Linked DNA regions of Homo sapiens. The protein of the gene in region 2 purifies or fractionates together with the protein of the main gene of each other region. This does not show direct contact. Each region holds a gene or a part of one and is shown on either strand. Other genes may lie near its edges. The genes, in order: MSRB2, COA6 and ISOC2.

Region 1 (3,652 bases), on a different chromosome or scaffold from region 2:
AGGTTGTTGGGAGGATAATCTGAGTCATGAATTAATACATGGAAAAGCATAGAGCAATGCCTGACATGACTGACTCAGGCCAGGCACTTGATGCAAGTTAGTAATGATGTTTTTGTTGTTTTGTTTTGTTTTTTGAGATGGAGTCTCGCTCTGTCGCCCAGGCTGGAGTGCAGTGGCGCGATCTCGGCTCACTGCAACCTCTGCCTTCCAGGTTGAAGCGATTCTCCTGCCTCCTGAGTAGCTGGGATTACAGGCGTGTGCCACCATGCCTGGCTAATTTTTTGTATTATTAGTAGAGACGGGGTTTCACCATGTTAGCCAGGATGGTCTTGATCTCCTGACCTCAGGTGATCCACCCGCTTTGGCCTCCCAAAGTGCTGGGATTACAGGCGTGAGCCAGCGCACCCGGGCGTAATGATGTGTTCTTAAGCAATAGATCCCTCTTAGGGCTGTATACATGAATGCGCTTTTGATCCTGAGGAATTCTGGAGGATATATTCTAATTAATGAGAACATACAAATGCAGACTATATTCCTGAGACTTCTTCCTGTTCAAGAGGAGTTTTAGAAATATATTCTGGTTTTGCCTCTCATTTTCCTTCTCTTTCTGTCTCTGGTCTCCAGTCTCTATAGTAGGAAGCAGAGGTACAGAAAAAATAATTCCTTCAAATGCTTGTGTGGAGTGAAAGTGAAGGGAAAGTTGGTCAACCAAAACTAAGTAGTTCTTTTAACAAGTAAATGCAGGGCTCACTCCTTTGAGCTCCCTGCTCCAGCTTGGCTGCTTCCTGCCTGGGACTTCCCTTCATGCTGAGCTGGCCTCCTGGGATCTGCTCAGCCCCACTAATACTAATTGAAATTCCACTTATTTTTGGATCCCAGATTTCTCCTGAAACCTTCTCTGATAGCACACACCATGGGTTTTTTTTTAATCTGCTTCAAATTCCTATTAATTTATCAGTATCACACAATTTAGGACCTAATTATTCTCCTATTGGATCAAGTATTTTATTTAGTTAAGGAGATAAACTTGATTAGCTTTCGAGTCCCTTGGCCATCTTATGCTTCTTGGACAAGGCTCATGGAAGTTGTTATGGGATGAATTGTGTCTCCCAAAAAGACATGTTGAAGTCTTAATCCCTGTAAGCTGGGAATGTGACCTTATTTGGAAATAGGGTGGCTGCAGGTATAATTAGTTTAGATAAGATCATATTGGAGTAGGGTCAGCCCTAATTCCAAAATCACTGCTGTCCTTATAAGAAGAAGAGAAGCCCAGACAGAGAGGAGACAGCCATGTGAAAACGGAAGCAGAGATTGGTGATCCGCAGCTACAAACCGAAGACTGCCTACCTTAGAAGGTAGGAAGAGGCAAGGAGGGATTCCCTAGATGCTTCAGAGCCCTGTGGACACCTTGACTTTGGACTTCTATCTTCAAGATTGTGAGAGAGTACCACCCATTTTGTGGTACTTTGTTACAGCCACCTTGGAAACTAATACTTAGATGCTCCATAAGTACGTATTGATTGGTTGATTAATAATATCCATCCTGCTGCTTAGACATCATAGCAATGTTGGGACTATCAGAAGCTGTGGTTACGGGCTGAACGTGGTGACTCATGCCTGTAATCCCAGCACTTTGGGAGGCCAAGGCGGGTGGATCACTGCAGGTCAGGAGTTCGAGACCAGCCTGACCAGTATAGCAAAATCCTGTCTCTACTAAAAATACAAAAACTAGTTGGGCGTGGTAGCACATGCCTGTAATCCCAGCTACTAAGGAGGCTGAGGTAGGAGAATTGCTTGAACCCAGGAGGTAGAGGTTTCATTGAGCTGAGATTGAGCCACTGCACTCCAGCCTGAGTGACAGAGTGAGACTCCATCTCAAAAAAAAAAAAAAAAAAAGCTGTGATTATGAAATCACTGTGAAAATGTGAGGGAAGTGGCTGCAACTTCTTGAGCACTTACATGCCAGACACTGGGCTCTAGTACTTTGCAAACAATCCTCACCCTCCAATAAGGAGCTATTAAGACCCTCACTTAACAGATGTGAAAACTGAGGCTTAAAGAATTTAACTAACTTGTTCCAGGTCACTTGTCTAGTAAGTGATAGTGCAGGGATTTGGGCTCCACTGCACTCTTCTTGAGAGTGGGAAGCACCCCAGCAATGAAGGAGCCCTCTGGGCACGCGGCAGGTGCCATGCCCAGGCTCTTCATGTGCATCGTTTCGTCAGACCTCTCGGCAGCTCCCCGTAGTGTTATTATCATTCTCATTTCACGTGAGGAAACTGAGAGCTAGGAAGATGAAATAACTTGTCCAGGGTTCTGCAGCTTACAGGTAGCCAGCCAAAATATGAACCCACAGTTTTGGACTCCAGAGCCCACATTCTTCACTAGCTGAGCTTCCATTAAGCCACACGGGCAGCTCCGTTGACATAGGTGCCATCGCCTTTTGGTGCCTGCTTTCCTTATTACAGGTGTAAGTTTCCCAGAAGACATAACCAGCCTCTGAGAGTGATCCCAGCCAGTGTAACTCATGAGTTCCCTTTCCAGAGCCTTGTTCCCAGCCTCATCCACCAGACTTAGCGTCATTCTCCTCATCATCCTATAATTGTTGGAATGAGTTTGGTGCACAGTTTTGGAGAGCTTCTGCCTCTCCAAATCAGACACCTTTAATCAAAGGTGTCTGGGTCAAGAACACTTTCCAGAATGTGTTGTCACACTCCTAGGGACTCCAGACTCTCTTTCCTTAACTCGGAATGAAGTGACATTGCCCATCACTGCCACTTCCTCTCCTCCTTCTCCCTTTCTTCTTCTACATGAGCCTATTTGGAATGTGTTTATTAAAATCTATTGTGGGATCACATATTTCATGATCACAAATCTTCTTAAAATAAGAGGAAACAGAGCCTGATACTAGTTCACCTTTTACGTAATATCCTGATGTCGTATGTACCATGAGTAACTAAGTAATATTGTTAAAAACCTTCTGTATGCCCCATTCCCTCAAAGGAATAGAAATTCTTCTAAGAGGTTAGGGTTGTCAGTTATCACCAAGTGCCTGTGCTGTTGGTTTGGGACCTGTAGAACTTCCAGAAATCAAGGAAAACCAAAGCAAATAAAACGAAACAAAGTAAAAATCCCTTAGAGTATATGATTCAGAATGGTTTTAGTTCTTCAAGGGCAAACCTTACAATCTGCTAATCACTTAAATATGTATATTGGAATTTCTGATTGGCTTTAATATTTTGGTTCCCAGTCTTAACTTATATATGTTAGGCCTCTCATATTACTTGGTAAAAATCTCCCGATTCTGCTAATTGCATCAATAAAGGTTTATTGTTTCCCATAAAATGCTTTAATGAGTTTTTATTAGCCTTAGTTTCATTTATTTAAAAAATTTTATTGTATTCATAATTCTCAATCAAAATACCTTTAATGATCACTAGTTGATATATAATGTTGAGGATGGAAAGACTGGGATTAAAAGATACTTAATGATGTTTTTCCCTGAGCAGAGTGGCCAGATGAATGTTTTTGAACCCCTGGAGGAGGGTTGCAAAGAATCCGACCTGAATATGCAGACATTTCTAGTTGGACCCACAACTGCTCACATTCCATAGATTTCTGGTATTAATAATAAAAAAATATTAAAAAATAG
Region 2 (3,652 bases):
TCTTTGTTACAGTCATCTACAACTTTGCAGGTCACCATCTGATATGGTTAGGCTTTGTGTCCCCACCCAAATCTCATCTTGAATTGTAATCCCCATAATCGCCACTTGTCAAGGGAGAGACCAGGTGAAGGTAACTGAATCACCGGGGTAGTTTCTCCCACGCTGTTCTTGTGACAGTAAGTGAGTTCTCATAAGATCAGATGGTTTTATAAGGGGCTCTTCCCCCTTTGTTTGGCACTTCTCCTTCCTGCCGCCTTGTGAAGAAGGTGCCTTGCTTCCCCCTTGCCTTCCACCATGATTGTAAGTTTCCTGAGGCCTCCCCAGCCATGCTGAACTGTGAGTCAATTAAACCTCTTTCCTTTGTAAATTAACCAGTCTCAGGCAGTTCTTTATAGCAGTATGAAAACGGACTAATACACCATCATTTTTTCCAACAATAATCAGGTCACAACTCGTGGGTACTCAGGTCAAAACTCGCGGGTAATTTCAATGTCCACATACTGATCTTTTCAATACCATGGCCTCTGTTCCTTGACCTCTTCAATGATCTCATCCTCCAACCTACCTTACTCCCAGGATCAAAGCTTATATCTTATCCTCATAACAAACAGAACCCTTCCATAATTCCAATTGTGAGAATCCCATTCTCCAACCCCTACCTCTGAACATTCCCTCTTGGACTTAATGCCAACAGCCAACCAGTCCCACCACCTTTCTACTGATTGTCATCCCTCTCATGGCCTCACTTCCCTCCTTACTCCTAAACCCAAAGCTCTCCAATAGCTTCCTGTATTACTAAGAGTAAAAGCACCAACCATGGCCGGGCACAGTGGCTCACACCTATAATCCCAGCTCTTTGGGAGGCTGAGATGGGCAGATCGCTTGAGTCCAGGAGTTCAAGACCAGCCTGGGCAACATGGCAAAGATCACACCACTGCACTCCAGCCTGGGCAACAGAGTGAGACTGTCTGGAAAAAAAAAAAAAAAAAAAAATTAAAAAAGTACCTCCCTGGCCTCCCGTCTCTTGGCTCTAACTTATGCTATTTTCTTCTTACTGTCCCTTAAACACATCGGTGCAGGTTTTTGTTGCTTTTTTTGTTTGTTTTGTTTTTTTCAAAAAGAAAAAAAAACCAGAGTCTTGTACTCACCCAGGCTGGAGTGCAGTGGCATAATCTCAGCTTACTGGAAACTCCACCTCCCGGGTTCAAGCAATTCTCCTGCCTCAGCCTCCCAAATAGTTGGGATTACAGGTGCCCACCATCACACCCAGCTAATTTTTGTATTTTTAGTAGAGACTGGGTTTTGCCATGTTGGCCAGGCTGGTCTCAAATCCTGACCTCAGGTGATCCGCCCACCTCGGCCTCCCAAAGTGCTGGGATTACAGGCATGAGCAACTGCGCCTGGCCCATCAGTGCAGGTTTCTGGCTGTTTCATTCTCTCTGCCTGGAATCGTCTTCACCAGGTATCTGCCTATCTGTTCCCTAACTTTTTTCATAACTTTGTGAAAACAGTTACTGTATAAATAAAACCTTTCTTGACCATCCTACTTAAACCTGTACCCTTGTTTGATTTTTCATCCTATCACTTATCACCATATAACATCCTTTTAATTCTACTACTTGTCTCTCTCCCCATACTAGAATGTATGCTACATGAGGGCTGAGCACTTTGTCTATTTTTCCTTGCTGTATTTTCCTATGGCACATAGGAGGTGCTCAATAGATATTTGTGGAATGACTAAATGAACAGGATATGCACCAAAAAAATGACCATGGAGCTGAAGTAGGGCCATCATCTATATTTGGGTGATTTTTTTTCTCTATCATTCCATTAAAATGGGCAGGTTATGTGTTCTTGAACTTTAATAAATACGCTTTTTACAAAACACGTGAATGTACTTTTCTTGTCAGAAGGGGAACACTGAGTCTCCGCTCTAGATCCATTAACTGTCATACTCCTTCCCCAGACAACACAAGTGCTTTAACTGATGATGAACACGGTCATTCCTCTCCTTCACCCCCTGGCAGCAAGACTGGTTACAGAGAGCTTGCACTCAGCTCTGCGGTTCTACGGGTGAGTTTTATAGGTACACACCCCATGTGGGGGTGCTGTGGTAGCTTCATGCTGCCTGCATCTGGACAGGTGAGGTAATGGCCACTATTGGGCCTCTGTCCAGATTCCCTCTGCAGACCCATGCACGCACTCCCCGCTGTGCTGGGCAGTGGCTAACAGCAGATGGCTGCCCCCTTCTCCAGAGACCTGCCCCTCAGCCAATGCCAATGACTGGCAGGCACAAAAGCCATGAAATATGGTGCAATTTACACTCCAGAGCTTCCAGAAGGATCAGAGTGAAGCTGGACAGCAGCTGAGCTCACAGCCCTAACTTACCTAGTCTCCCTCCTGAGAACACTCCAATAATTCAGTCGAGGGTGACACGCAGGTCCCGGGTCCTAAGTTGATGCTGGTGTCTTTCACTGAAGCTGGAAGCATGGGAGGAGAGGCCTACTGGGTGCAGGTCATGAGTGTGGGCCCTGCTAACCTGATGGGATTAATGTCCTTATAAGAAGAGGAAGAGCCGGGTGCAGTGGCTCATGCCTGTAATCCCAGCACTTTGGGAGGCTGAGGCGGGTGGAACAAGAGGTCAGGAGTTCAAGACCAGCCTGGCCAAGATGGTGAAACCCCATCTCTACTAAAACTACAAAAAGTAACTGGGTGTGGTGGCGGGCGCTTGTAATCCCAGCTACTCAGGAGGCTGAGGCAGGAGAACTGCTTGAACCTGGGCAGCAGAGGTTGCAGTGAGCTGAGATCACACCACTGCACTCCAGCCTGGGTGACAGAGTGAGACTCTGTCTCAACAACAACAAAAAAAACAAAAAAAGAGGAGACAGAGACTGGATCTCTCTCTCTCTCTCTCTCTCTCTCTCTCTCTCTCTCTCTCGGCAACACAGCAAGAAGGTAGCTGTCTACAAGCCAGGATGAGGGCCCTCATCACAAACTGACCATGCTGGCATGCTGATCTCGGACCTCCAGCCTCCAACACTATGAGAAATAAATTTCTCTAAGGTATTTTGTTATGACAGCCTGGGCTAAGATAGGCATCAACACATAAGCTGGGACTTCAAGCCATGGCTGTAAACAGGATTGCCTTGGTCGAGTGAGTAGCAGAGAAGGGAGCTCTAATGAACACGGGCATTTAAGACTCACAGCAAGGCATTCCAAAGAGCAGCGGCTGCTAGACGCGAATGAAGGAACTGGGTGAGAGAACCGTAAAGAGACCCAAGGAGACAGGGCTTTTGTATTCAAGTAGACCTGAATGATAACTCAGTTTCTAGAACTACATGAGACTTGTGCAAGCTATTTTCATGGATCCTTTTCTTGCATGGTAGGCATAGGAAGAAGTATGTGGGGTCTGGAATCAGACTACTGAGTTCAAATCCAGGCTCTGTTACTACAGGTGACTTCATGTCAATGTGCCCTTACCTATAAAACCGCTAAGAGAGTTCCACGAGGGATAAATAAGATAGATGACACATTTCAAGTGTGTAGAGTGTAGAGTGTAGAGGATGTACTCAATTCATGTTAGCGGTGACTAGGACGCAGTGACCTGGAGAGAGGTTGGGGCCTCAGGGGATGGCACCCAGTCTGCTTGAGT
Region 3 (3,231 bases), on a different chromosome or scaffold from region 2:
TCGGATCAGAGGAAGGGGCCCCCAGGTCAGGAGGGGATCCAAGATAGGATGGGGCCCACAGGTGAGGAGAGAGGGCCCAGGTCAGGATGGGGGTCCTGCAGGGAAGTGGAGGTTTCTGGTCAGGGAAGGAGGTTCTATTTAGGATGGGGGTCCCAGGTTAGAACGAGGGACCCCTGGGGTCAGTCAGCATCTCACCAAGATGCAGGCCTGTGCCTCAATGCCACAGAGCAGCACAGAGCGCAGCTGGGGCCGACTGTCCAGCTCCTGCTGCAGGGCAGGCACCATGCTGAAGCAGGTCTTGGCCAGCGGCCGAAGGCCCTCAGTCCCCAGCTCGGGCACCGTGGGGCCCAGGCCTTGTGGGTACTGCTCCGTCAGCATGACTGGCACCTCAAGCAGCCGGGCCACCTGTGCCAGTGATGGGGAAGAAAGGTCAGGGTCTGAGGGAGGAGGGGCTGGGCCTGGACTCCTGGGTCTGAGGGAGGAGGGGCTGGGCCTGGACTCCTGGGTCTGAGGGAGGAGGGGCTGGGGGTCTGGACTCCTGGGTGTGAGGGAGGAGGGGCTATGCCTGGACTCCTGAGTCTGAGGGAGGAGGAGCTGGGCCTGGACTCCTGCGTCTGAGGGAAGAGGAAGTGGGCCTGGATCCCTGGGTCTGAAGGAAGAGGAGTTGGGCCTGGACGCCTGGGTCTGAGGGTGGAGGGCTGAGCCTGGATCCTGGGTCTGAGGGTGGAGGGCTGAGCCTGGATCCTGGATCTGAGGGTGGAGGGCTGAGCCTGGATCCTGGGTCTGAGGGTGGAGGGCTGAGCCTGGATCCTGGGTCTGAGGGTGGAGGGCTGAGCCTGGATCCTGGGTCTGAGGGTGGAGGGCTGAGCCTGGATCCTGGGTCTGAGGGTGGGGGGCTGAGGTCATACCTTGAGCATGCGGGCAGCCACTGAGACGATCTGTGGGAAGTAGGCGATGTTGTGGCGGAACTTCTCCTGCATGTCACACAGGAACAGGACAGAGGATCCTGGGAGGACTCGGCCCAGGCTGGGCCTGGCAGCCGCCATTTTCTGGGGGTGGGCAGAGGGACGGTGGGTCAGGCCCGAGGGCTCCTCTCAGTGTCTCCAGCTGGCGTCCAGGTCCTCACACTCAGAGCCTGGCAGGGCCCGGGGCACCTTGCCAACCTTCTTCCCACCTCAAGGTCTCTGTGTCTGCTGTTCCCCGGGCCTAGAATGGGCTTCTTTCTTATTTCTGTCCTATTCGGCAGGGAGGTGACTTCCTTGGGAAGCCTTCTGGGCCACATCCACACGTGGCTCCGGGTGTCCCTCTCCTGGTCCCTGTGTTCTCCTTGCTGAGGACTGTGCACAACGTCAAGGAGTGCTTCATGATCCCGGTTACCATCCGCCCCGGTTACCATCCACCCCAGTTACTATCAGTCCCGGTTACCATCAGCCTCAGTTACCATCTGCCCTGGTTACCATCCACCCCAGTCACCATCCGCCCTGGTCACCATCAGCCCCGGTTACTATCAGATCCCGGTTACATCAGCCCCGGTTACTGTCAGCCCTGGTTACCATCAGCCCCAAAACGGAGGCTCTGCTGGGCGTCCTCCTGTGTTGGGCCAGCCCACTCCCCAGGGCCTCCTGAATGAAGGGTCCACCCTGATCCTCACCCTGCTCCAAGAGGAAACTGAGGCCATATTCTTCAGCCATAGGAAAGAAGGGGGACCCTGCACAGGCCACAACCTGGATAGATCTCAACACAAAGACCACGGAGCGTGCGATCCCGTTTTCCTGAAATGCCCAGAACAGGCAAATCCACAGACAGAAAGCAGATGGGGCCGGGCGCAGTGGCTCACGCCTATAATCCCAGCACTTTGGGAGGCTGAGGTGGGCGGATCAGCTGAGGTCAGTTCAAGACCAGCCTGGCTAACATGGCGAAACCCTGTCTCTACTAAAAATACAAAAATTAGCCAGGCAGTGGCGGGTGCCTGTAACCCAGCTGCTCGGGAGGCTGAGGCAGGAGAATCGCTTGAAGCCCAGGAGGCAGAGGTTGTAGTGAGCCGAGATCACACCACTGCACTCCAGCCTGGGTGACTGAGCAAGACTCTGTCTCAAAAAAAAAAGAGACTGGGCTTGGTGGCACACGCCTGTAATCCCAGGACTTTGGGAGGCCGAGGCGGGCGGATCATCTGAGGCCAGGGGTTTGAGACCAGCCTGGCCAACATGGTGAAACCCCATATCTACTAAAAATACCAAAAATCAGCCAGGCACGGTGGCACGCACCTGTTGTCCCAGCTACTTGGGAGGCTGAGGCAGGAGAATCACTTGAACCTGGGAGGCGGAGGTTGCAGTGAGCAGAGATAGCACCACTGCCAGTCCAGCCTGGACAATAAGAGCAAAACTCCATCTCAAAAAAAAAAAAAAAAGAGAAAGAAAGCAGATGATTGGCTGCCAGGGGCTGTGGCCGGGAGGAATTCAGGTTGACTGCTGGGGGGTGTAGTTTTCAGTTTGGGATGGTGAAAATGCTCTGGGACTTGGTGGTGGCGGCTGCAGAACAGCATGACTATGAATGCCACTCCACTGCATTTTCAAATGGCTGAAAGGGTAAGTTTTATGTTAAGTGCATTTTACCACAATTAAAAAAAAAAAAGAAAAGAAAGAAAAGAAGAGAAAGAAAAAAAGGACAGGCTGGTGAAGCCACCTGGCCAGCAATTCTTTTGCAGGGGAGGAAACCTCGACCCAGAGGGCCCGTTAACCTGCCCTAAGTCCTGCAGCCATACAGGGCACACCTGACTTCCACTCGGTCAGAGCGTCTACGCTGTCAGAGCGTCTACACCGCAGGGGCCCTGAATCAGCACGTCTTGGCCTACGTCCCTGGGAGGCTTGTGCTTTTGGGTCTCCGAGTTTGCTGCACAAGTGAGGGTTTGGGCTGGGCTTTTGTCTGCAGCTCTCTCCCCGTCTGTGTGTACAATTTGTTTGTACTTAACTCATTTATTCATTAATTCACCAGGGAAATGGGAGACCCTGGAGGCTCATTGGAGGCAAGACAGAAGGTGTTCTGGGAAGCTGAGGGAGGCAGGGCACTCAACAAGAAGCTGCTATTTTCTTTTCTTTTTTTTTTTTTTGAGATGGAGTCTTGCTCTGTCACCCAGGCTGGAGTGTAGTGGCGCGATCTTGGCTCACTGCAAGCTCTGCCTCCCAGGTTCAAGGATTCTCCTGCCTCAGTCTCCCAAGTAGCTGGGATTACAGG

Evidence for each region.
Region 1: the proteins of COA6 (region 2) and MSRB2 fractionate together in Homo sapiens (co-fractionation; one large-scale study listed by BioGRID). This does not show direct contact.
Region 3: the proteins of COA6 (region 2) and ISOC2 fractionate together in Homo sapiens (co-fractionation; one large-scale study listed by BioGRID). This does not show direct contact.

What each region holds. Positions count from the first base shown.
Region 1 is NC_000010.11:23,112,473-23,116,124, forward strand, and holds part of MSRB2 (methionine-R-sulfoxide reductase B2, mitochondrial precursor), read left to right. Parts: intron 1-3,652. UniProt on the Homo sapiens protein: Methionine-sulfoxide reductase that specifically reduces methionine (R)-sulfoxide back to methionine.
Region 2 is NC_000001.11:234,376,346-234,379,997, reverse strand, and holds part of COA6 (cytochrome c oxidase assembly factor 6 homolog), read right to left. Parts: intron 1-3,652. UniProt on the Homo sapiens protein: Involved in the maturation of the mitochondrial respiratory chain complex IV subunit MT-CO2/COX2. Thereby, may regulate early steps of complex IV assembly.
Region 3 is NC_000019.10:55,455,441-55,458,671, forward strand, and holds part of ISOC2 (isochorismatase domain-containing protein 2), read right to left. Parts: intron 1,050-3,231; 5' UTR 1,047-1,049; coding exon 909-1,046; intron 406-908; coding exon 196-405; intron 1-195.